Regions from separate parts of the Homo sapiens genome. Here regions 2, 3, 4 and 5 are each linked to region 1. The links come from fine-mapping of genetic effects on gene expression. A gene starts in region 1. Each other region holds a variant in brackets. All regions are shown on one strand. Distances are from middle to middle.

Region 1 (5,000 bases):
TAATCAGATAAATAGCCATCAAGATTTTCAAAAGATCTCAGTAGTTAAAAGAACAACTTTAAACCAAGGATGAAATTCAACAGATGTAAAATCTTTTCCCTGAAAAGAATAAGACAGGATAAATATGAAAACTCTATCTTAGTTTCACCTTGGGGAAAGGGACTTAGGGATTTTAGTTCAGGGCAAATGCCCAAAGTGAACAGCCTAACATAGCTACCCAAAAAGAGGAGGAGGGAAACACACTCACTCAAGATCTCCTGTATACAGCACTTTGCAAAAATGGCTGGCATATATTACATAACGTAACCTTCCCAGTAAGAAAATGAGGCTGATATGAACACCATGTTAGAGGACAGGGAGTCGGGACTTAGGAAGGCCTTGCCCAAGGTCACACTGCTGTTGAGACGTGGCCAGTGCACACGAGTCCCTACTCTGTCTCCTGTGAGCAGTATTAATAGAAAGGCAGCGTCTAAACCCAGGGGATAACAGATCACTCCATTTGTTCCACATTGGTGAGTTCATATTTACATACCGTGTTTAACTCCTGGGACATATCAAAAGCTATTTTGAAAGACTCGAATTTGATCAGGAAAGTAACCAGAACAGTGTGTGTGTCTGCTGGGGTTGGGGGAAGTTCAGAAGACGAAGAAAGTTCCTGGAGATATAACTATCTTGAGCTTTCTCATTCAGAGGTAAATAATTCCTGCAATACTTTTATGACCGTAACTCACAGGCCAACATACTGAATTTAAGAGAAAAACACTTGAACTTCAATAAATGAAACTTCCAAGCAATTAACACTTTTCTATAATGGTATCCGCTTCAAGGGACGAATGTTTTAGCGTTTAAGTTAAATGACAAAATCTCTAAAAACCTGGCAGACCTTAAGCTATTTTCACTCACAACCTGGAAAAATGTATTTATTCAACTTGGTTTAGTAAATGAGTACATTATTATTGTTGCTCTTGTGTTATTCCGGTGAACAGCTGTCTTAAAATGTTTCCCTCCAGCGGTGGCTGCTTTCAGGGGGAAGGGAAGGAAAAGGAAGTCTTCAAAAGGGGAACAATATCATGGCGCTGTGTTAATCACTTCAGCATCCGTCACTCCACACTCACCACCCTTCTTGAAGCCGACCATCCCCACTCTTTGGAGAGAAGAAAGGCCATTCTCCTCTCTGAAGGGCCTCCCAAGTGCTTCCCTGGAGACGCACTTCCCCGGGATGCCCAGGCCGAAGCAAAGGGGGCGGGGAGAGACCCCGGGCCGAACCCTTCTGCCCCCAACCCCTCCAGCGCCCCGACTCTTCCTGGACTCCGACATCTTCTGCACCGCCCCGGGCCCCCATCCCTCCCGCACCCTGGTCCCTCTGGCACCGCCACGGACTACTCCTGCGCCCCGACTTCTCTTGCACCCTGAACCCTTCTGCACCACGGCCCTTCCTGCACCGCCACGGGTCCTCCAGGGACCCGACCCCTCCTGCACCACCACGGACCCTCTGCATTCCAAGCCCACCTGCACCCCATCCGCCACTATGCCCCGACTGCCCCTGCACCCCCTTGAGCCCTGCAGTGTCCCGACTCCTCTTCGGGGCATCCGGGGAACGACTCGGCGCCTGACAGGTAGGAAGATGGCGGCACTCACCTGTCACAGCAGCTGCGCCCGCCACCCCCGGAGCCAGCCCAGGTCGCGCACCGCCAGTGAGTCCCTACGACGCGGCCCCCCGTACTGACCCGAAGACGCGCAGGACACCGCTGTCTCCGCACTGACGCGACCCCACAACCCCAACCTGGCGCTAATGCACTTCCGGTGTCGCCGGAAGTCCCGCCCCAGTCCCGCGCCGCTGGGTTCTCCGGAAGCCGCCCCACACCTCCGCCCCACACCCGGCGGCGCCGGAAGTCACGCCCCGGCTTCCGCCCCGCAGCCCCGAGGGGTCTGGGCGCGCTGAAGACCCCTTCGGCTGCTGGGCCAACGCCCCCACCCTTGGTCACGTACTCCTGCCGCCGAGCGGTTCGCGGGAGGTGGCCTCGGGGGTCGTAGCTACTCACCGGCGGGGCGCTCCGAGTCCATCTGCCCCGTAGCCCGGCAGCCGGGGCGGGAGGGCTGCGAGCCCGGGGCGCGGTCCGCCTGAGGCCTGAGACCCGGGGCCGCCTGCGCTCAGGGCCGCGGTGCCGGCCGCGCGGGAGCCTGGCGGGGACGGCGCGGTCAGTGTTCGGCTCCTCCGCAGTGACTCACCAGCGTCCTGAAGCTTTTGATCACCATTGGCTGGGAAGGAAAAACAGAATCAGCTGTTCCCTGCGAAAGGTGGGACTTGGGCCGCTTTTTTCTTAGAATCTAGGTTGGAAACGTCGCATGATGGTCTTTACGTAAACAGCCGTCTCAACGCTCTACAGAAAGCGCTAACCGCGCATTTGAAGCCCACCTAGAGTAAATCAAGAGCGTGAAAGCATTTTTTTTTTCTGTGTAGGTTAACATTCCTGCTCCTTCCTTTAAAAAGGAAGCTCAAGGCCAGGCGCGGTGGCTCACGCCTGTAATCCCAACACTTTGGGAGGCCGAGGCCGACGTATCACGAGATTAGGAGGTCGAGACCAGCCTGGCCAACATGGTGAAACCCTGTCTTTACTAAAAATACAAAAACTAGCCGGGCGTGGCGGCGCGCGCCTGTAACCCCTGCTACTCGGAAGGCTGAGGCAGGAGAATCGCTTGAACCCGGGAGGCGGAGGTTGCAGTGAGCCGAGATCGCGCCTCTGCACTCCAGCCTGGGACAGAGCGAGCCTCCGTCTCCAAAAAAAAATAAGGAAGCTCAAGATGAAGAGTCAGAAGTGGTAACTTGTTTGTTGCACAAGAAACAAATTTAGCATTCTATTTAGGGGATCCAGATTACCAAAAAAAAAAAAGAAGTGAAGTTATTTCTGCATTAAGTATATTAATAAAACTTTATCACTAAAAACAATTCTGTAAGAGGAACGCCAAGGAAAAAAATATTTGAGTTTTTAGAGAAGTCATTTTTTAAACTTTTAGAGGTTGTGACATTTAAGTAACATAATTTTATTTAGTACCTAGTATGCAAAGACATTGTACTGGGCATGGCAGCAAATAGAAAGCTTTGTAAATCGCAGTGTCCCATCTAATTAACCCGCATTCTAACAGGTGGTTTTATTTTTCTGGACCGCACCACAGTCAGGTAACACCAAGAATATCGCTAATGTAATTTTTTAAGTTGATATATTTAGGATTCCATAAAAGTCACTGAAAATAACTGAGAGCATGACATGTCACAAAACAAGGGAAAGAAATCATTTTGAGGATCAGTCGCTTTACATCTTTTGTAACTAATTTAATCCCCAAAGGAATCCAATAAAGTAAAAGTTATTCTAAATTGAATTTTAAGCATGAGAATGTGGAAATTACTCGTCAAAAGTCAAAAATAATCGTGCAGCAGGGCAAAGACTAAAGGCTGGCATCAGAATCCATATTCTTTTCACTGTTGATGTGCTAGGGCTGCAGGAACAAAATACTGCAAACTAGGCAGCTTAAACAAATTTATTGTCAGAGGTCTGACTGGAAGTCCCAAATCAAGGTATTGGCAGGGTTGATTCCTTCTGAGAGCTGTGATGGGAGCCTGTTAATGCATCTCAGCGTCTAGGCATTCCTTGGCTTGTGGCAGCATGCCCCCGCCAGTCTTCACATGACGTTTTCCATGTCCGTGTCTGTCTGCACACTTAGCGTTCTTTTTATGAGGACATCAGTCATATTGGAGTACAGTAGACGCTACTTTAATATGACCTCATGTTAACTAATCATATCCACAACAACCCTGTTTCCAAATAAGGTCACATTATAAAATACTGGAAGTGAGGTCTTTAACACATGAATTTGAAAGGGGGACACAATTTAACCCATAACACACTGTATCCTGAAATAACTATCCAATGTAATTTTTTTAAAAGACACAAAACTAGCCGAAATTATAAAAGGTTATGATTGCAATCCTGGTATCCAGTTACATTCTCCCTCCTGCAGAAGCTGTGGAGAATCCTGTCTCAGAAAACCAATTTCTATTTTGTCACATGTCCATCTATGCAAAATACATGTACTTTGTCCCTGACATAGGGCAACAATGCTGAATTTACTAAGACTCATTTTTGCGCATGGTTTGATAGGGAATTAAGATTTACTAGGTATTCTGTCATTGTCCTCATTACTGATTATTTTAACTGTGTCTCAAACACTTGGATAGTACACTATAGTGTTATAAGCTGTTTGACATGTCGCTTCCTAAATTCTCAAGTTATATATATGTGTGTATATATGTCATGTAACAGGCACAACTGTTTTCATGTGTATCACTTTATTGCACTTCACAGGTATCATATGTTTCTTACAAAGTGGAGGTTTGTGGCAGCCCTGCATGGAGCAAGTCTGTCAGCACCATCTTTCTAACAGTATGTGCTCACTTCATGTCTCTCTCACATTTTGGTAATTCTTGGAATGTTTCCGTTATTAAATCAGTTATAGTGATCTGTGATTAGTGATCTTTGATATTACTGTCATAATTGCTTGGGGGGCACCATGAACCACCCCTATATAAGACAGCAAACTGAGTCGATAAATGTTTTATGTGTTCTGACCACTGCACTGACCAGCTGCCTCCCTATCTCTCTCCTTCTGCTCAGACCTCCCTATCCTTGAGACACAGCAATACTGAAATTAGGGGCCAGGCATGGTGGTGGCTCATGCCTGTAGTCCCAGCTACTTGGGAGACTGAAGCAGGAGGATTGCTTGAGCCTAGGAGTTCGAGGCTGCAGTGAGCTGTGATCACGCCACTGCACTTCAGCATGGGCAGCAAAGCAAGACCCTGACTCAAAAAAAAAAAAAAATCAGGCAATTAATAGCCCTAAAATGGCTACTGTTTCATAAAAGAATGAGTTGCACATCTCTTACTTTAAATCAAAACTAGAAATGATTAATGATTAAGCATGGTGAGGAAGGCATGTTGAAACAGC
Region 2 (5,000 bases), 40 kb before region 1:
TTCCGGTGTGTGGCACCGCCATCCTGCCGCGTGCCCACAGGGGCTCTTCTATTAATATTAGCACAGAGAGGCTGGGCACGGTGGCTCACGCCTGTAATCCCAGCACTTTGGGAGGCCGAGGAGGGCGGATCACGAGGTCAAGAGATTGAGACCGTCTGGCGAACGTGGTGAAACCCCATCTCTACTAAAAATACAAAAATTAGTTGGGTGTGGTGACACGCATCTGTGGTCCCAGCTACTCGGGAGGCTGAGGCAGGAGAATCCCTTGAACCCGGGAGGTGGAGGTTGCAGTGAGCCAAGATCACGCCACTGCACTCCAGCCTGGGCAACAGAGCGAGACTCCATCTCAAAAAAAAAAAAAAAAAAACGGACAGATGGGGAGGGGGTAGAAAGAGAGCGTGCACACACAAGGGCAGCCATAAGGGTGAGCTGTCTGGTGTCTCTTCTGACAAGGACACACTCATCCTATGGGATCAGGGCATCCCCTCCACTACCTCATTTTGCTTTAACCACTTTCTCAGAGGCCCCATCTCCAAATACAGCCACACTGGGGGTTAGGGCTTCAACACAGATTTCTGGGGGACGGAGACATTCAGTTGAGAACATCCTGTCCCTGGCCTCCCCCAAATTCATATCCTTCTTGCATGGCAAATACAGTCATCCCATCCCAACAGCCCCAGAAGTCTTATTCCAGCATCAGCGCTAAGGTGTGAAGTCCCAAGTCTCAACAAAACATCACCTGAATCAGGACTGGGTGGGACTCAGAGTGCGATTCGCCCACCCTGAAGCTGAGCTCCCCTCCAGCCGTAAACCACGGAACCCAAACAAGTTACATGTTCCCAAAATACAACAGTAGGGCAGGCACTGGACAGACGCTCCCTTTCCAAAAGAGAGAAAGAGGCAACAGGGAAAGGGTGGTGGGGCCCAAGCAAGTCCAAAACCCCACAAGGCAAACTCCACGAGCTCTTCAGGCTCCAGAGAGTCCCTCTTGGTCTGGATGCGCCACCCTCCAGGCATGCTGGGGCAGAGGTGTCACCCCCTTGGCTCAGCCTGGCAACCCCACCCCCACAGCACTGGACCATGGGCAACCTGGCCCTGAAACCAAGGAGGCTCCCACACTTCGAAACCAAGGAAGAAACAGGCTCTTGTCCTGGGACTGCAGTGAGAGCTGCAGCCCTGCCAACCTCAGAATCACCTTCGGGGCATTCTTCCCTCATCTTGAAGGGTGGTAAAGGTTCTCGCCCAGGCAGCTCTGGTTTCTGTGCTGTGGAATCCCAGCAGTCTGATGCCTTCCTTCATTCTGTCCCCACCATGTCCCCTCTGGTTCAAGCTGGCGGGGTCTCTGGGTATAATCCCATCTCCAGTCCTGGATCCTGCTGCGGTGGGTGCTTAAAGCTGTGGCTCCCACCCACACTCGCCTCCCTGTCAACTGGCTGTTCAGACAAACCCTGCATGTGCTCTTCGGAACCAGCTTTCTCTTTTTTTTGTCACAGACACAGGCTGGGAATTTCCCAAATCTTACAAGTTCTCGTCCCCTTTCCCTTAACAACTCTTTCGGAGTATCTCCGTCCTTTCACACTTTATTGTAAGCGAGGAGAGCAGCCAGGCTGCACCTTTAACATTTCATTCACAGGATCTCAGCTCAGCCAAGTCCTCAGCCATTTTGTAATGAGGATCACTTTCTTCCGGTTCCCCGTGACCTGTCCCTCGCCTCCTCTAAGCCTCAGCAGAAAGGCCTTCAACATCCACTTTTCCACAACATTCTGTCTATGATACCTGCATTCTCTGAGATGCTAGAAGCTTTCTCTCCAGCTCTCCCCTTTCCTCTCTGAGCCTTCACCCGAGTCCCCATTGATGTCCGTATTTCTACCAACAAGCTCTTCGCCGCTATGGAGGCTTTCTCCAGCAGGTCCCTGAAAACGTCTGCAGCATGTACCCATTCCCGGTCCCGAAGCCAGGTCCACACCGTCGGCATTTCTCCAGCAGCCCCCGCTCTGCGCGCGGTACTGAAATCTGTCTCAGTTGGCTCTGGCTGCCGCAACAAAAGGCCGCAGACCGGGCG[A/G]CGCATAAAAAACAGACATTTATTTTCTCACAGTGCTGGAGGCTGGAAGTCCAAGATCAAGCCAATTCAGGTTCTGGTGCGGGCTCATCCTTAAAGACGGCCGCCCTCTGGCTCTGCTCTTACGTGACACGGAGAGTGACAGAGAGATTGAGAACACAGGTGAGCTCTCCACTGTCTCCTCTTATGAGGACCTCACGCAACCTCACTGAACCTTAACTACTACCTTAGAGGCCCAATCTCCAAATTCAACCATACCGGGGGTGAGGCCTTCAACACTGAACTTGGGGGGACACAAACATTCCGTCCATGACAGATATCATAAATGGATTCTCAGATTCGCAGACATCAGCATCCTACACATTCACAGGTAAGGAAAGGTGCTTACACTAGTGTCAGCAACAGGCTGGGGTGTCGGCAGCTGCACCGCGTATCTCCAGATATGAGCAGTCTGATCTCCAGAAGCTGAAGAGAGAAATCGGGGAAAATTACCCAAGGCACAGACCATGGTAAAATGCGCTCTTCACCGCCACTATGGCTAAGCAGCAGCAGTCAGACCTTTCCAGCTTAGTGACCACTTAGTGAGAGGAATGTACTTTTTACTTAAATAACTCTTTTCTGAGACTGCATAATGCTATTGAAAATAGAGTACATGTCCAAAATTGAGGAAATAATGATTACTTATAAAACTATTTCACCTTTCATTTTAGCATAGAAAGTCCTGGAAGTTCAGAGAAAATGTACAAATAGTAGATTTTCCTCTCCATCTATCTAACCTAAGAAACCCTATCATATCAGAACTTACAGCTGCAATCAACTCTGAGACGTTCGGGAAAGCGACACTCATCTCCATCCATTCAACACACACGCGGCCTTTCAATGGGCCAGGCACCTATCAGCACTGCTCATGTGTGCGGCTCCCGTCCCACTCTGTTTTCAGCAGCCAGTTTGCGAGGAAACGCTTTGACTGAGGATTGGAAAGACAAAAGGACAGCACTGCGGGGCACAGAACAGGCCTCGGACACCAGCATGGCCACCTCTCACCCACACACGGGCAGGCTGGCTTCCACCTTCTCTTCACTGCCACCCAGCTTCTCTAAAGGAGCTGCTCTGAGCTGATGCAGCACATTTGATGCAAATGAATGTACTGCCCGGACTTGCAACTCCTCCTCAAATCAACATCATGCCCAATCCCAGTCTAACTCTCCTCTCTCCATGCCCGTTACCTCACGTTTCCCCTCTAACTCTCCTCTCTCCATGCCTGTTACCTCACGTTTCCCAGTCTAACTCTCCTCTCTATCCCCATTACCTCACATTCCCAGTCTAACTCTCTCCTCTCTATGCCCATTACCTCCAGTTTCCAAGTCTAACTCTCCCCTCTCCATGCCCATTACCTCACGTTTCCAAGTCTAACTCTCCTCTCTCCATGCTCGTCACCTCACATTTCCCAGTCTAACTCTCCCCTCTCCATGTTCATTACCTCATCTTTCCCAGTCTAACCCTCCTCTCTCCATGCCCATTACCTCACGTTTCCAAGTCTAACCCTCCTCTCTCCATGCCCATTACCTCACGTTTCCCAGTCTAACTCTCCTCTCTATACCCATTACCTCATGTTTCCCAGTCTAACCCTCCTCGCTATCCCCATCACCTCACGTTTCTCAGTCTAACTCTCCCTTCTCTATGCCCATTACCTCCTGTTTCCAAGTCTAACTCTCCTCTCTCCATGTTCATTACCTCATGTTTCCCAGTGTAACTCTCCTCTCTATCCCCATTATCTCACATTTCCTAATCTAACTCTCCCCTCTCTATGTCCATTACCTCACGTTTCCAAGTCTAACTCTCCTCTCTATCCCCATTACCTCATGTTTCCTAGTCTAACTCTCCCCTCTCTATGTCCATTACCTCATGTTTCCAAGTCTTCATCAGTTCCTGGATGTGTCTGGTTCCACCCTCTTTTCCAGCCCTTTGGTTTGAATCTGGACACGTCTAATTGCCACCAGTCTCCTTGCTCCCTTTTCAATCATCCCACAAACCGCCAACTTCGTAAGGTGTAAACTCCTTGTCTGCTTTAGTCTTCATCCACGTATGAAGGTGAAAGTCAGCTATGTGGTCTGGGCCTGCTCAAAATGACTCTCAGGCTAACCCTCCCACCACATTTCTCTCTCACATAGAAACTCCAACCAAACCGCATGACTCGCTGCATCCCACACACTGGAAGTACCTGTTGCTGGGGCTCCTTCTTAAACAACTCCACCTGCATGAAGGGGCCAGTCATCTCAACCTCAGTGTTCTATTCCTGCGTCAGCACAATTTGGCCCATAGGCGAAACCCAGACAGCCGCCCACTTTTGTGAATAAGTGGACACAGCCATGTCCACTCATCAGTGCACTGTCCGCTGCTTTTAGGCTGCAAGAGCAGAACTCAGTACTGGCGACAGAGCCTGAATGTCCCGCAAAGATGAAAATATTCACTGCTTACTCCTTTACAGAAAAATCATAAGGACCTCTGGTCTACTGAAAGCCTACACACATCCTTCGAGATCATCACCAATGTCCCTGGGCTATCATGGGGATCTGTGGGGGTCTGACAATCTCACAGGAAAAGTCCTCAGTACTGTAAGGCTACCCTCGAAAAAGCGACCAAGGAAGGCACGTTTTTAAAACTACTCTGAAATTATAGCAAATCCAAGCTACCACGGGTTAGATAAATTACCCAGAAAGAAGTAAAAATGCTGACATTGGCAACTTGCTGTGTCTCTGTGCTACTTTTCTCTTTTCCTCCATATCAGATGCCTACAATCTAAGGGAACAGAATGGTAACCACAGGGCCTCAAGGAGCTCCGTCTACAGGAACTGCGGGGGGAGCAGCAAACATACTGATGCTGTACGGAAAGGCTTCGAGAAGACCGTGAAGCCATCTTCATCTCACAATAAATCCAACT
Region 3 (5,000 bases), 46 kb before region 1:
AGGAACAGAAAACCAAACAGGTGCATAACCCATTTTCTGACCCTACCAGTTAGAAGGTCAGGCAAATTAACAGGTTGAATGTGAGAACCACTTAAATCTTGATTCTTTGCTTAGAATACCTTCTAATGATACAACGCTATGGGTCCTCAGTCAAATACAATCTTTAACGCTCATGCAGGAAATGCACTTAGAGATAGATTCGCAGAAGCAACTTCAGCAGGCAGCATCCCAAGATGGCCCCAAGCCACCCCCACCCCGTACATGCCTAACACCCTTCCCTTCAGTTAGGGCAGAGCCTGTAAATAGGATGAGATTATCTTTCTGGTAATTATGATACATTATAAGGCAAAAAGGATTTTGCAGATGTAATTAAGGTCCCTAAATGAGTTGACTTTGACTTCATCAAAGGGAATATTGTCCTGGGTGGTCTGGCCTAGCCCTTAAAAAGGGTCCCAGAAGTTGGAGAGTTCAGAGCAGCAGGGGAGCTCCAGCTGCAGAGGAAAGCGGCTGCTGTGTGGGAAAGGCAAGCCCTGTGCAGGGGCCCCAGGGCCAGACACAGCCTCTGCACGCCCAGAGGAGCCCCGGCTGGCAGCTGGCAAGAAGACAGGGCCTCAAACTCCAGACGCAAGAAGGAGCTCCTCCAATGACCAGCAGGCTTGGAAGAGGACCGCAGCCTTGGGGAGGTCCTGACCAGGCAGCACCCTCACTTAGGTCTTTGAGGGCCCAGGGAGAAGAGCAGCTACCACGGGCCCAGAATTACTGACCTGGGAAACCATGAGGCCGTCAATTCCTGTCGTTTTAAGACACTAAGATTGTGGAAATTTGTTACAGAGCAATGGAAAACTAATACAACTACCATATGTCCAATATCTAGATACTACATGCTACAATTTAAAACCCCTGAAGACAAAATAAATTTAGCTACCAATAGTTCTATTATTAATAGAAAGAATCTCCAAAAATTACCACAGAAGAGCCAAGAACACAGAGACTCATTCTGGTCAAGAAGTAAGTGGCAAGGTCAGACATAACCCATGGACATAAACTAACATGCACAGCCAGGAGGCGGCGGACTCAGAGAACCCAGGCACCTGTCAGAGAGTGAACGAGCTCGGACGTCTCCACGTCGTACAGGTTTGCCGTCCGGTCCCAGGAGGCAGTCACAGCCTGCTTCCCCCCAACCAGCCAGTCGGAGGCGATGACCACGCCCTGGTGGCTCTTGAGGGATGTCAGTGGGACGCGGATGGTGGGGCAGTCGCTGGACACATCCCCATCGAGGTCGGGCTCGTCCTTGTCAGAGCACTCTACTTCATCTTCCCCAGATATCTGCTGCCAAAGGGAAGGCCAGAAAAGAAAGACATTTCCTGGAAATCTTGAGTTTCTTCTGACATAGCTACAAAATAGATGGTTCTCATTAATCTCTTGAGGACATATCCATCATGATGGTCACCACTAGGAGCCTGGTGCTGGCCACAGTGATGAGTATGTCCTCCTCTGACCCATAACTGCTGCCCGTGAACACCCATCAACTCTACGACCATCTCGTACAGAAAAAAAAGTGGAATCCACAACATTGTCAACCGAACTACCATTTATTTCCACGCATCAACAGAATGGCAAATAAAATGATTTTCAACATTTAAGCTTTCATCAGTTACTAGTAGAAATGCAATATAAAACTAACCAAATACAAATGAAAGTCAGTAATTTATCACATTACAAAAAGGCATTTTCATTCTCAAGAGCCTATTTAAAATATACTTGGAATTCTATTGCTATAGTCATAAGAGTCTATTTTCCTTTGTAACATCAAGCCCCCTGTCAAAGGCCAAGGCTAAAACAAACACATTACAGCCAGCTCTGTAAGAAAATCTGTATATTCATCCAACAAATATTTATCAGGGGGTGACAGAGTGCCAGTCCCCACCCCCAGCCCAGGTGCTGCTTACACAATGCAGAAGAGGACAGACGGCTTCTGACATGCACACATGCAAAACTACGCTCAATCTAGCAGGTAGGAACTCTGGAGTGAGGACCCCTGGTAAAGCCCCTGCCCTCAGAGAACTTCTGTTCTAGCAAAAGAGAGAGACCACACACACACACACCCGTTAGTATGGAGAGGTATGTCATATATACACAAGTACTAGTACTGGAACTGATAATTTGGAAATTTGTCCCAGCCCAAATCTCATGCTGAACTGGAATCCCCTGTGTTGGAGGCCGGGCCTGGTGGGGGTGTCTGGCTCATGGGGGAGGATTCCTCATAGCCTGATGCTGACCTCACAATAGTGGGTGAGCTCTCAAGAGATCTGGCTGCTTGGATGTGGGGCACCCCCCGCCCCCGCCTTACTCCTGTTTCCATCACATGACGCCTTCTCCCGCTTCGCCTTCTGCTGTGAGTGAAAGCTCCAAGCTCCCTGAAGCCTCCCCAGAAGCCAAGCAGATGCTGGTGCCACGCTTCCTGTACAGCCTGCAGAATCAGCCAATTAAACCTCTTTTCTTTATAAATTACCCTGTCTCAAGTATTTTT[TA/A]TAGCAATGCAAGAATGGCCTAACACAGGCACGTCATGAGCACATATACATTACTAGGGAATGCACGTCACAGGGACGCACAGCAGCACGGGAACGCACGTCACAGGGACGCACAGCGGCACGGGAACGCACGTCACAGGGACGCACAGCGGCACGGGATCGCACGTCGCAGGGACGCACAGCAGCACGGCAACACGTCACATGGACACACAGCCGCACGAGAACACGTCACAGGGACGCACAACAGCAAGGGTTCCCACGTCACAGGGACGCACAGCAGCACGGGAACACACGTCACAGGGACGCACGGCAGCACGGAAACATGTCACATGGACGCACAGCAGCAAGGGAACGCACGTCACAGGGACGCACAGCAGCAAGGGAAAGCACGTCACAGGGACCCAGGGCAGCACGGGAACACATATCACATGGATGCAGAGCAGCACGGGAACACAAATCAACATGGAGACACAGAGTAAGGTGGTAGTAACTTCTATGAAGTAAAATAAAACAGGACAAGGGGCAGCTGGATGGGGGCGCTATTTCACACAGAATTACTGAGGAGGGACTCTCTGATGAGGTCGCACGTGAGTCGGATGTGAGGAAAGGAAAGGTTAAGTAAGGCTCGCCCGGGCTGAGGAACAACATTCCCGCCATGTGCGGAACAGCTACGGGAGGCAAAGTCGGGAACAGCTCCTGTAATCCCGGGAGACTGGAAAGGACACCAGGTTTTATTCCGTGTGATGCAAAATCACCAGACGGCTGTCGGCAGGATGTGATGCCCGGTGTGTGCTGTGTGAACAAACTGCGGAGGGAACAGTGGAAGGGGCTGCTATGGGCAGAACTGTGGACCCAAATTCCTGTGTCGAAGTCCTCACCCCAGGACCTCAGAATGGGGCTGTTTGGAGAAAGGGGCTTTAAAGAGATAATTAAGGTAAAATGAGACCAGGAGAGTGGATCCTATTCCAATAGGACTGACATCCTTGTAAGAAGAGATGAGGACACAGACACTCCCAGAGGGATGAAGGATCCAGGAGAAGACGCCATCTATGAGCCATGGAAAGACGCCTCAGGAGGAACCAGCCCTGCTCACACCCTCATCTCGGGCTTCCAGCCTCCAGGACTGTGGGAACACGGATCTGTTGTTTAGAACACGGATCTGTTGTTCAGAAGTCACCCTGCCTGTGGCACTTTGTTATGGCAGCCCCAGAAAACAACGGGGGAGACGGACAGGAGATGAGAGAAGTGCAGGGAGGGCGGCCTGGAGCAGGGTGGGAAGAAAGAACTGAAGCGCCCTCTGCTGCAGGAGTGGCTGACAGGGTGATTTCCACAGGCAGTAAGAGAACAATACAGGCGTTCAGACGGTGGAAAGGTGTTTGGTCTAAAGCACTGGGTGACAGGGACGTTTCCTGAGACGGGTGGCACAAGGAAAGGAACACCCAGAGACAGCAAGTTCAGGGTGGCACGTGCAGCTCAGTCGGGACGGGGGGCCCGAGGCTCACAAGGCTGGCAGAGGCCCCCAGACAGGCTGCAGCAGGGGGGTACTCGGTACGTCACCTTGAAGGCAGGGGGTGATGGGTGACAGCACTGCACGTGGCTGGGAAAACGGCTCTGGAGGGAGCACAGCAAAGAGCCAGGAGCAGCCACGGGGTGAACCCCTCAAAGAAGAAAAAGAAGGCTGAGGAAGTTAAACGAGTAACTCAGTGTAACCTAACTCACATGTGACAGTCATTCTGTTGGTCTAAGTCTGTTTCCACTACGCCACCCAAACGCTTCCTTATCAACACTGTGGATGTCAAGCAAAACTCACAGATGCAAATTTTAAAACACAAGACGTTTGCCCAAAAGCTATAATGATTCAAGATGAACACAGATTTTAACAGATTAGAGTTTGTGTTAAAATTGAAAATTAGAACTGCTAAGCAAATCAGAGTCAACACTGGCCGGCAAAAGCTTCAGAAAACAAAACTGCTTTCCACCTAAGGAGCCTCATTTCATCCAGTAGTGCTGGAAGGAGCCTCCCACGCCATTTCTGCAGGGACCTGGCCGTCCACAGGCTGCACTGCCTCCTCCTTATTAGGGAGGGCCCAACACAACTGTGTGTGCAGTGCTCCCAGGACAGCTCAAGTCACAGCACATCACAGAGGTTCATCTTTAACTCAGAACCCCCAACACCAGCCCCAAATCTTGAGGTGGCAGCTATCAATATGAGAAGTGCACTCACCCAACACAAGCAAAGTAGTAAAGAAGAAAATAAAATTAAGTGAACATTCTAAGTAAACTATTAGGTGTTTTTAATGTAAGTACTGGACATGAATCTTCCCTCTCACAAAATTAGTGTTTTTCTTATTTTATTTGGAAAACAATCCATACATTAACTCCTTTGAATTTCCTGAGCATCAATGCTCACCCTCCTCACCTCTCCACCACGCCCACCATCAGTGCACATTTTGAATTTCCTGAGCATCA
Region 4 (5,000 bases), 69 kb before region 1:
CAGTGCACGTGATGTGCTCCAGGACGCTCAGCACGGGGCCCCACGGGCCTCCACATCACAGGGACCCTCACACTCCGTGAGCCTCCACGTCACAGAGACCCTTGCGCAGGGACCCTCACGCCCAATGAGCCTGCTCTTCACAGGAACCCTGACCCCGGACCTCCTGACTCTCCACCAAGCTCGCTTTCCCAAAACTCATGCTGGGAAGTGACACCTACTCCAGCACTACAGGGAAATATTTTCAATCAGTCCCTTTCACTCCACTACTTAAAGGCTCAAATAAGTGTTTTGTTTTCTCTTTTTCAAGTCAGTCAGCTGAAGAAGTAAGGACAATATAAGTCAGTGATTTCCAGCAGGGTTCTGTGACACTGAAAACCACATTTATTTATCTGAAGAGGTGTTACAAGTTCTAAATAAAGTTAAATCACATTCATTAATCTTAAAAATAAATCTATTTCACATACCACTTTAGGAGGGAATAAACCCAGGCACAACAGAATCCTACAACATCAACAAAGTTGAATGTTCACAGATAACTGAAAATAAAACTGTCTACACAGAATTAAGGCCAAGAAGAACCATTCAGAATTCCGTTTTTCTGAGGGAAAATACTCTCAAAGTAATAAAGTCATAGTTCACAGTCATAAACAAATAGTTTTCATGAATTTGTGTTTCAAAATGCAAACTTTACATGCTGCACAGAAATTTTAAAATCCGCATGGGCACATTGAAAAGAGAACATTCTACTGTGTCTAAGATGCAGCTGTGAGGACACATGAGTGATGCTCAGCTGTTAACAAAACATGAAAAGCTTCCCCAGGACAAGCAATTTATGGCTGTGTTAAGGGTTGTGAAGCATATTTTAGTCACTCTAATTTCATGAAATTTTTCTACTCCACTATTTGGATGTGTATCGAGGAGTAAAAACTCAATAATTAACTTCAAACAGTGCACTCTCATGCCAGGAAGGGGACTGAAGAGACACCCGGTCTCAGGGAAGCTCATTTCCAGAAAGTCTGTGCTACCGGAAGAAAAGGTGTTGCTGCGCTGAGAGAACCCCCACTTTCGCACGTGCCTCCCTGACCACCCGGCCTGCCTGCAGGTTCTGAGGCTCACACCCCGTGCAGAGCAGCTGCGGCCCACGAGCCATGAGCTGGTGTCCACAGAAGGAGCCACAGAGGCACTGAGGGGGCCACCCAAGCTGCCGGCAGGCGTGTGGCCCTGTGCAGCCACAGGAGGCCTCGGGGAACAAATCCATTTACTCACACAGGTATCCAGACAGTACTCCAACAAAATCAAAAGAAGACAGGAAAGAGGGATCCTCTGGGGGGGCCTCCATTACGCACAAGGCTGGGCAGACGCTGCCTCGACCACGGGGAGTTTCTTTTTTTTTTTTCTGAGACACAGTCTCGCTCTGTCGCCCAGGCTGGAGTGCAGTGGCGCGATCTCAGCTCACTGCAAGCTCCGCCTCCTGGGTTCACGCCATTCTCCTGCCTCAGCCTCCCGAGTAGCTGGGACTACAGACGCCCGCCACCACGCCTGGCTGATTTTTTTGTATTTTTATTAGAGACAGGGTTTCACCGTGTTAGTCAGGATGGTCTCGATCTCCTGACCTCGTGATCTGCCCGCCTCAGCCTCCCAAAGTGCTACGATTACAGGCGTCAGCCACTGCGACCAGCCACTGACCCCGGGGAGTTTCTGTGCATCGCAGCTGACCCTGTGACCTCCCAGGGGAGAGCCAACAGCAAACGCCACCCACATTATAGTGAGGCCCGGCTGCAGAGCACAGCAGAGCCGCCAGGGAATCTGAACACGGGCCCCCAGGCCCCCTGGGCCTCTGCATCTGTGCGGGTGCCATGGAGTCTCGATTCTCTTTGCGCCTTCCAGGCAACCAGGACGGGTGGGCTGAACAGCACATAGCGAGAAACTCCCTCCGCCGTCTTCTGAAGTTAGCAAGGAGCAACCCTTCACTAACAAGAAACTAACATTTAAATATATTTCTTCCTGTCGCAACAGCCTGCCATAGAAACGTGTTCTTCTGGCTGGAGGTGGAAGAGGTCCCACCTTAAAGACCCCCAGCCTACAACCAACCCAGCTTCTGCCTGGCCACAATGCCCACTCAACACTTCCAATCTGCACAGACACAACTGCAGACATCTAAGACGGCTTCCCCACAGAGCCACCACCACTAACACGTGCACCAAAGAGCTCGTTCCGCATGCCTGTGAAACAGAGGAGCTGCATGTTTTCTTTATTTGTAAACTGAAAAGCCGATCATGGTATTAAGAACACTGGGCTGGGCACGGTGGCTCACGCCTGTAATCCTAGCACTTTGGGAGGCGGAGGAGGGCAGATCACCTGAGGTCAGGAGTTCAAGACCAGCCTGACTAACTAACCAGCCTGACTAACAAAATTAGCCAGGCGTGGTGGCG[C/T]ATGCCTGTAATCTCAGCTACTCGGGAGATTGAGGCTGAGGCTGAGGCAGAAGAATTGCTTGAACCTGGGAGACAGAGGTTGCCGTGAGATCATGCCACTGCACTCCAGCCTGGGCAACAAGAGCAAAACTCTGTCTCAAAAAAAAAAAACACTGAAGTAGGTGTGGAATAACTTGAGTGTACAACTCTACTTCTTCAATTTTAAATTTTATGAACTCTAAATACAGCTCAAGCATTTCCAAGGAAAACTTAGCATGCAAAGACTTAGTAAGAAAATGAGAATGTAAAATATCTCTACCCGTCCTCCTCCACTGTGCCCTGCATATGTTCACCGACCGTGCTGTTACCTGTCGGCTGCTCCGGGGAAGCCGCGCCAGGCGCACTCCTGACATATCAAACAGTCTCACTTGTCGGTTGTCATGGGGGAGGGCTATGATTTTTTGGCCGACACATACATTGATCCTGCAAAGAAGAGGTAAAAGTGGGTTGTGCATGAAACAGTGACACTGTAAGTTTTTGAGTTGACAGATAATGAAGCAGGAGGTTCCATATTATTCACATTTCAAGGCCGACTACATGAACACACTGCGTGTACCACCTGCTTACGGTATTCAAAAGAGACCAAGTTACTCACACGTAGCTACAAGATCACACAGACCCCATGCACATACACACAATACACACACACACACACACACACACACACACACACACTGCTCAATGGTAGAACCAGACCCACCCAGACACAAGACCAATCCTCACAAGAAGTCAAGAGAAGCCCTGCATGTCTGCCACAAACGGGTCATTCTCATTCTCACAAATCTCACTGATCCAACCTGGTTTTAGGCTAAGTTAGTTTAAGTTTTCATGGAATACTGAAACTGCATTAGAGGACAAAGGAGCCTAAACCATTGTTCCCGGGGTTCTATCAATTAAACCTCCATGAATAAAACATGAAATCACAATCAATCCTTTCACATCAAACTAAGCCACTTACTTAACCAACAGTTTGACTTTACCTGTTAATGGCAGAGTCCGTGCGAATAGTTGCAATGGGGGATCTCATATTTTTCAAGTCCCAGACTTTCACCGTGCGGTCATCGCTGCCTGAAACCACGTTGTCTCCCACGGTGAACACGGCAGAAGTCACAGTGCTATGAACAAAGGGCACAGAGTCAGATGCAACAGCAGGTGCAGGACGTGACACCACACCCCACACACAACCCTGACCAAGTGGGTGGGAAGGAGGTCGGAGAAGCGCAAACTCACAGCTCTCTCCTCTGCAAACTGCTCCCGCCTCCCAAAGCCTCTCCACCAGTGCAAGAAAAGGACAACTGATTTCTTCCCAGTGGATCAGAAACACACAGTCCATTCTACTCTATTCCACATCTACAGGCAACGGAACGAAGAGAGGTTACAGAAAGTAGGGTTGGACAGAACATGCCCAAATGTCTACACATCTGGGTCTATGGCAGAGAATTTAAAAAATCCATTCCAACAACAACTGTCAATCAATGTAATCATAACATATCTTGGTCTATAGCAGAGAATTTAAAAGAAATCCATTCCAACAACAACTCTCAATCAATGTAATCATAACACAGGAGTTAAGAGAAAAACACTCTGACAACAATTCAAACACGGACAAAGGACTTGGATCAACATTTTCCCAAAGAAGATATACAAACAGCCAAGAAGCCCCACACACCAGAATTCACAGTAGCATTACTGACAACAGCCAAAGAGGTGCAAACAACCCACATGTCCATCAGCAGATGGATTTAATGCGGCGTGTACACACAATGGAATATTATTCAGTCGTAAAAAAAGAAACTCTAACACGTGCTATGACATGAATGAACTTTCAAGAATCCCCCTCATCTAAGATCCCTGGACTAGGCAAATTCAGAGAAACAGGAAGTAGAACAGAGGTTCTCGGGGTCTGGGGGATGGGCATGAATAGTTTCACAAGTGCAGAGTTTCCATTTGAGATAATGAAAAAGCATAGGAAATAGTGCTGGTGGTTGCACAACAATGTGAATTGATTTAATGCCACTGAAGTACACACATAAAAACAGTTAAAATAGTAAGTTTCATATTATGTATATTTAACCACAATCTTTATCTTAAAAAGTTTGAGGAGAAAAATTCAACATCACAACCACTCTTGGAACCTGCTTCTATAAATCCAAAATAATAATTAATAGTTTTCTTTTTAATTCAAATGTGTTGAAATATGTGGCCCTCAGGGAGAGGCTCGAGGAACCGAAGAGGCCCTGAAATGGCTAAGATGGGAGACCCACGCCCTAAAGATGAAAAGTACCATAAAAACAAGAAGAGAGGGGGAAGAAAGGTTTCATCAGTTTATGTTAAACTCTTTCATAAACTTTTCTTCTGAAATGTAAAAAAAAGTGTTTGACATGGTGCTAAGTATATTAAATAGTCTTACCCGTGGTAAAATCGGATTAAACATGTAAACAAAGGATGTTATCACTTGAATTGCACTGAGAATCACTGAAGAAACCCAGGCAAAATCTGCAGAGGAAATCATGTCCTCACCAGCTGAGG
Region 5 (5,000 bases), 24 kb after region 1:
TGATTCTTGTCCCAGGAAGCCCAAGACGTGACACGGTGACCCACTTTAATGTGTTTATACATAAGTGATTTCAGGAGGCAAAAAAACAGATTACACTTTTTTTTTTTTTTTTGAGACGGAGTCTCGCTCCTTCGCCCAGGCTGGAGTCCAGTGGTGCGATCTCGGCTCACTGCAAGCTCCGCCTCCCGGGTTCACGCCATTCTCCTGCCTCAGCCTCTGAGTAGCTGGGACTACAGGCGCCCGCCACCACGCCCGGCTAATTTTTTTGTATTTTTAGTAGAGACGGGGTTTCACCGTGTTAGTCTGGATGGTCTGGATCTCCTGACCTCGTGATCCGCCCGCCTCGGCCTCCCAAAGTGCTGGGATTCAGATTACACTTTTAAAAGTAATGGCAAACATAATTCTCAATTTAGGGTCTCAGTAATTTACAAATGTATGTCTAGAGTTAATGGGCATAGAAATTTACCCAGAAGAATTAGGAGGGGTATGTATGCAAGGGGTAGAAATAGGATCCCAATTCAGAGAAAAGGGAATTGTTCTCAGGGAATCAGGACAGGGAAAGTTTAGGGAGAAGAGAAGAACCAAAGTATTGAACTTGGGGCAAGACCAGAGTAAGAACCAACAGTAAAACCAAATTGCTGCACAAAAATAGTAAACAATGAGACAGGGATAGTTTTTTGGCCTGAAAATACTAGCCCATACATGTATGCCAAAAGCCTACTGGCAGTGTACCCAAAGAGACTACTTACAGCACCATGGCACAACACAGGCATGCAGTGGGTAAGGTTTCCTGGCATCTCGTCACAACCACTGGGCCTTGACCTTGGCCATCCCTGAGCTCTGAGCTCAGGTCTTAGCAGGTTGGTCCTACTGATTGTAACAGGGCCCTTGTCACTGGAGTTTGGCCAGTTATGTTAACATCTAGCTATTTATGAACCTTGTCATTAGTAATTATTACAAGATACAACATAATAGGAACAACTCTATTCATAAAAAATATATACACATAAACAACAAAAACATGTATATGTATTGTTATTCAGCCTCCTAGATGAATAACAGCTTAAACCTTATTAAGTCTTTCATTTTTTGCCTTTCATTTACTTAATTTTCTATTACAGTTTCAGAGCTTGGGTTATACCTGAGCCTAAACATGGTTAAATACCACCCAGTTGTACAGGAGACAGGATCAAACGATAGAGAAAATAGAGAAGTGAGTGTTGGAGGAAGAGCAGTAGTCTTCTCATGGCTGAAAATTAAAGCTAAGTCTGAGACTGACCCCTATTCACGTGGATATGGGGCCCATTTTAATAATGAACTTACGACCGGGTGCGGCGGCTCACGCCTGTAATCCCAGCACTTTGGGAGGCCGAGGCGGGCAGATCACAAGGTCAGGAGATCGAGACCATCCTGGCTAACACGGTGAAACCCCGTCTCTACTAAAAAATACAAAAATTTAGCCAGGCGGAGTGTCAGGCGCCTGTAGTCCCAGCTACTCGGGAGGCTGAGGCAGGAGAATGGCGTGAACCCGGGAGGCGGAGCTTGCAGTGAGCCGAGATCGCCCCACTGCACTCCAGCCTGGGCGACAGAGCGAGACTCCATCTCAAAAAAAAAAAGAAAAATGAACTTACATTTCTTTCACATATATTCAACTCTTCACATGTTCTTTTTCTCCTTTTGTTGGATTTATCGAGCTGTGCTTTTCAAGGATTTGTCGATTTAATGCACATTATCAAAGTTAGAGTTGTAACCTTTCCCTACATACAATCTTAGTATGTTTTTAGTATCTTCCTTTTTCTTACACATTTTCCAAAATCTTTCCTATCTCCCAATAGCATATGCAGAAGAAAATGAGATATCTCAAATATAGCAAAAACTGCATCAGATTGCTTTGGAATAAAAAAATTGAAAAGCTTCTAGTGATCCCAGCACTTTGGGAGGCCAAGATTGGCAGATCACTTGAGGCTAGGAGTTTGAGAGCAGCCTGGGTGACATGGTGAAACCCCATCTCTACAAAAATTAGCCGGGCATGGTGGTGTGTGCCTGTAATCGCAGCTACTCAGCAGGAGGAAGGAGGGACAGGCAGGGGGAGGGGGCTGAGGGACAAGAATTGCTTGAACCCGGGAGGCAGAGGTTGCGGTGAGCCAAGATCGCACCACTGCACTTCACCCTGGGCAACAGAGTGAGACTGTCTCAAAAAAAAAAAAAAAAAAAAAAAGGAGCAACAAAGTTGGAAAAAGCCATTAACTAGAATGATCAAGAAGAACAGAGAGAATGCACAAATGATGAAAATCCGAAATAATGCAGGTACATCTTTGTATTACCCAGCTAAGGCATAGTAATTAAAATCTTCCCATGAAGAAAAGACAAGGCCCAGTGGCCTCACTAGTGAGTTCTACCAAACATTTAAAGAAGAAGTATTGGCCGAGCATGGTGGCTCACGCCTGTAATCCCAACACTTCAGGAGGCTGAAGCGGGCGGATCACCTGAGGTCAGGAGTTCAAGACCAGCCTGACCAACACGGTGAAACCCCGTCTCTACTAAAAATACAAAATTAGCCGGGTGTGGTGGCACACGCCTGTAATTCCAGCTACCCAGGAGGCTGAGGCAGGAGAATCACTTGAAACTGGGAGGCGGAGGTTGCAGTGAGCCGAGATCGCGCCATTGCACTCCAGCCTGGACAACAAGAGCGAAACTCTGTCTCAAAAATAATAAAAAATAAGAAATATTACCAGTCCTTCATAAGCACTTCCAAGAAATAGAGGAAAAAGGAACACTTTCTTTTGGTTATTACAAGAAACTATACCAATGTATTTTAGTTATTTTATATTTTTTATATATTGGTGTTATTTTATTAGTTTTATATATATTATTTTATAACTAATCTATATGTTATATTAATTATTTTATATATTATGGTTATATTGCAGTTATATGTAGGTATATATAGCTATATATAGTTATATTAGTTATCATATTAGTTATTTTATATATTGTTATTTTATATTTTATATATAATATTTTTAGTTATCCTACCTCCCAAAAG[C/T]ATATGCAGAAGAAAACGGGATATCTCAAATATAGCAAAAAGATTTCTATTGAGAAATGTTCAGTAATAAGTAAAATGACACATATGTGATTGATATTTTTTTTTTTTGAGTCATTGTCTTGCTCTGTTGCCCAGGCTGGAGTGTAATGGCACGATCTCAGCTCACTGCAACCTCCACCTCCTCAGTTCAAGCAATTCTCTGCCTCAGCCTCCCGAGTAGCTGGGATTACAGGTGCCTGCCACCATGCCTGGCTAATTTTTGTATTTTTAGTAGAGATGTGGTTTCACCATGTTGGCCAGGCTGGTCTTGAACTCCTGACCTTGTGATCCACCCACCTCGGCCACCCAAAGTGCTGGGATTACAGGTGTGAGCCACTGCGCCCAGTGTGATTGATATCTTAAGGCTGATGACAGCAGCCCTCTCAAATGAATCTGCAATTTGCTACTGAATCCATACAATTCACCTCCTCCAGTATTTGGCCAAGCCACACAGTAACTATTTATAATAGATATTACAAGAATAACTATTATCAATCACGAATCCAGATACAAAAATCTTAAAATATTAACAGAAACCAGCAACATATAAAAAGAATATTCTCCATGCCCAAGTGGGATTTATTTCAAGAAAGCAAGGCTAGTTTAACATCTGAAAATCAATTAATATGATACACCATATTGCTAGAATAAAGGGGAAAAGACCACACAAGACTCATTTCAGTAGAAATGCAGAAAAAACATTTGACAAAACTCAACATCAATTCATGATAAAATCTCAAGAAAGTAAGACGAGAAGGGAACTTCTTCAACCTGATAAAGGTCACCTTCTGAAAACCTACAGCCAACCCTATCTTTGCATTGAACAATGCTGTAGAACTACAGCTCAACACACTTTCTTAGGAAAGCAGAATCTGAGAGCCCATTCAGAAAAAGAACTACCTCAACACTCTTTCTTAGGAGAGCAGAATCTGAGAGCCCATTCAGAAAAAGAACTACCTCAACACACTTTCTTAGGAAAGCAGAATCTGAGAGCCCATTCAGGAAAAGTCTGAGAGCCCATTCAGAAAAAGTGTTCTTTGGAGAGCAGGATTGAATTAGTTTGATCTTTTCAATTGAATGAGGCAGTAAGCCACTAGGTACAGTGATACTAGCTTTGGTAATGTGCAGCTGTAGAGGGTTTGTACAAGGTTATTAAATTACATTCAAAATTTTGGTCTAGAATATCTTTTAGTTTTGGTGACCTAGGTCCATTATGTGCCTTAGGAATATACAAATATATGTAATCCAGGCTGGAGTACAGTGGCTCAATCCCAGCTCACTGCAGCCTTGACCTCTGAGGCTCAGGCGATTCTCCCATCTCAGCCTCCAGAGTAGCTGGGACTACAGGTGCACACCACCATGCCTGGCTAAGTTTTTGTATTTTTTGTAGAGATGGCTCTTGCCATTGTTGTCCAGGCTGGATGCCTGGGCCCAAGTAATCCACCCGCCTCAGCCTCCCAAAGTGCTAGGATTACAGGCGTGAGCCGCTGCGCCGGACACTGCCTTAAGAGTATACGAATGTATTTTTGATGCAAATGGAACTTTTCATTCAGGTGTAAATAAACTTGAGCTAAGTAAATGGTTAATAATAGGAGTTGATTTACATGCTTGCATTTATCTATTTTTTTCATTTACATACAACTCCTTGTGGGAAAGTGCACTAAAGATGCTGAGTACAAAAACTTTGTATTTATTTGCAGGATATATCTGAATATTTTTAATTAATTAAATAACCGAAGTTCCAAATTATAAACCTACAATCATGGACAGACATGGGAGCTTAAAGATTGCGTGGCTTGGCCAAATATTGGAGGAGGTCCAGGCGCAGTGGCTCACGCCTGTAATCCTAACATTTTGGGAGGCCAAGGCAGGCGGATTGCCTGAGCTCAGGAGTTTGAGACCAGCCTGGGCAAAG

Alleles and levels. Alleles are on the strand shown, and positions count from the first base shown. SD is a standard deviation of normalised expression in the study named.
For the expression in unexposed skin of the gene that starts at base 2,222 in region 1, G is the high allele of the variant in region 2 and A is the other (small effect, 0.20 SD a copy in GTEx).
For the expression in lymphoblastoid cells of the gene that starts at base 2,222 in region 1, A is the high allele of the variant in region 3 and TA is the other (moderate effect, 0.45 SD a copy in GTEx).
For the expression in tibial artery of the gene that starts at base 2,222 in region 1, C is the high allele of the variant in region 4 and T is the other (small effect, 0.15 SD a copy in GTEx).
In carriers of allele T in region 5, the expression in esophagus muscle of the gene that starts at base 2,222 in region 1 tends to be lower than with C alone (small effect, 0.18 SD a copy in GTEx).

Evidence for each region. PIP is the estimated chance that this variant, and not a neighbour inherited with it, causes the effect. A credible set is the group of variants that fine-mapping cannot tell apart.
Region 2: its variant is the best candidate, but not a certain one, in a credible set for the expression of WDR37 in unexposed skin (GTEx, PIP 0.53).
Region 3: its variant is the best candidate, but not a certain one, in a credible set for the expression of WDR37 in lymphoblastoid cells (GTEx, PIP 0.75).
Region 4: its variant is the best candidate, but not a certain one, in a credible set for the expression of WDR37 in tibial artery (GTEx, PIP 0.54).
Region 5: its variant is the best candidate, but not a certain one, in a credible set for the expression of WDR37 in esophagus muscle (GTEx, PIP 0.67).

Annotation. Positions count from the first base shown.
Region 1 is chr10:1,053,607-1,058,606 of GRCh38, reverse strand. WDR37 (WD repeat domain 37) reads right to left here and starts at 2,222. Exons shown (of 14, transcript NM_014023.4): 1 at 1,639-2,222. It also overlaps a transcript of IDI1 not described here. RefSeq lists enhancers at 1,505-1,564, 1,665-1,724, 2,525-2,574 and silencers at 1,825-2,254, 2,685-2,744.
Region 2 is chr10:1,093,694-1,098,693 of GRCh38, reverse strand. WDR37 (WD repeat domain 37) reads right to left here. Exons shown (of 14, transcript NM_014023.4): 9 at 2,448-2,524. Among named protein-coding and RNA genes, the nearest start is that of WDR37, 40 kb to the right of the region's middle. RefSeq lists an enhancer at 1,857-3,056. The variant A/G (reference allele first, on the strand shown) is at 2,063.
Region 3 is chr10:1,099,928-1,104,927 of GRCh38, reverse strand. It overlaps WDR37 (WD repeat domain 37), which reads right to left. Exons shown (of 14, transcript NM_014023.4): 10 at 1,092-1,326. Among named protein-coding and RNA genes, the nearest start is that of WDR37, 46 kb to the right of the region's middle. RefSeq lists an enhancer at 2,197-2,729. The variant TA/A (reference allele first, on the strand shown) is at 2,531.
Region 4 is chr10:1,122,804-1,127,803 of GRCh38, reverse strand. WDR37 (WD repeat domain 37) reads right to left here. Exons shown (of 14, transcript NM_014023.4): 12 at 3,452-3,586; 13 at 2,780-2,894. Among named protein-coding and RNA genes, the nearest start is that of LINC00200, 34 kb to the left of the region's middle. The variant C/T (reference allele first, on the strand shown) is at 2,433.
Region 5 is chr10:1,029,587-1,034,586 of GRCh38, reverse strand. All of the region lies in intron 1 of IDI2-AS1 (IDI2 antisense RNA 1), which reads right to left. Among named protein-coding and RNA genes, the nearest start is that of IDI2, 6.2 kb to the right of the region's middle. The variant C/T (reference allele first, on the strand shown) is at 3,047.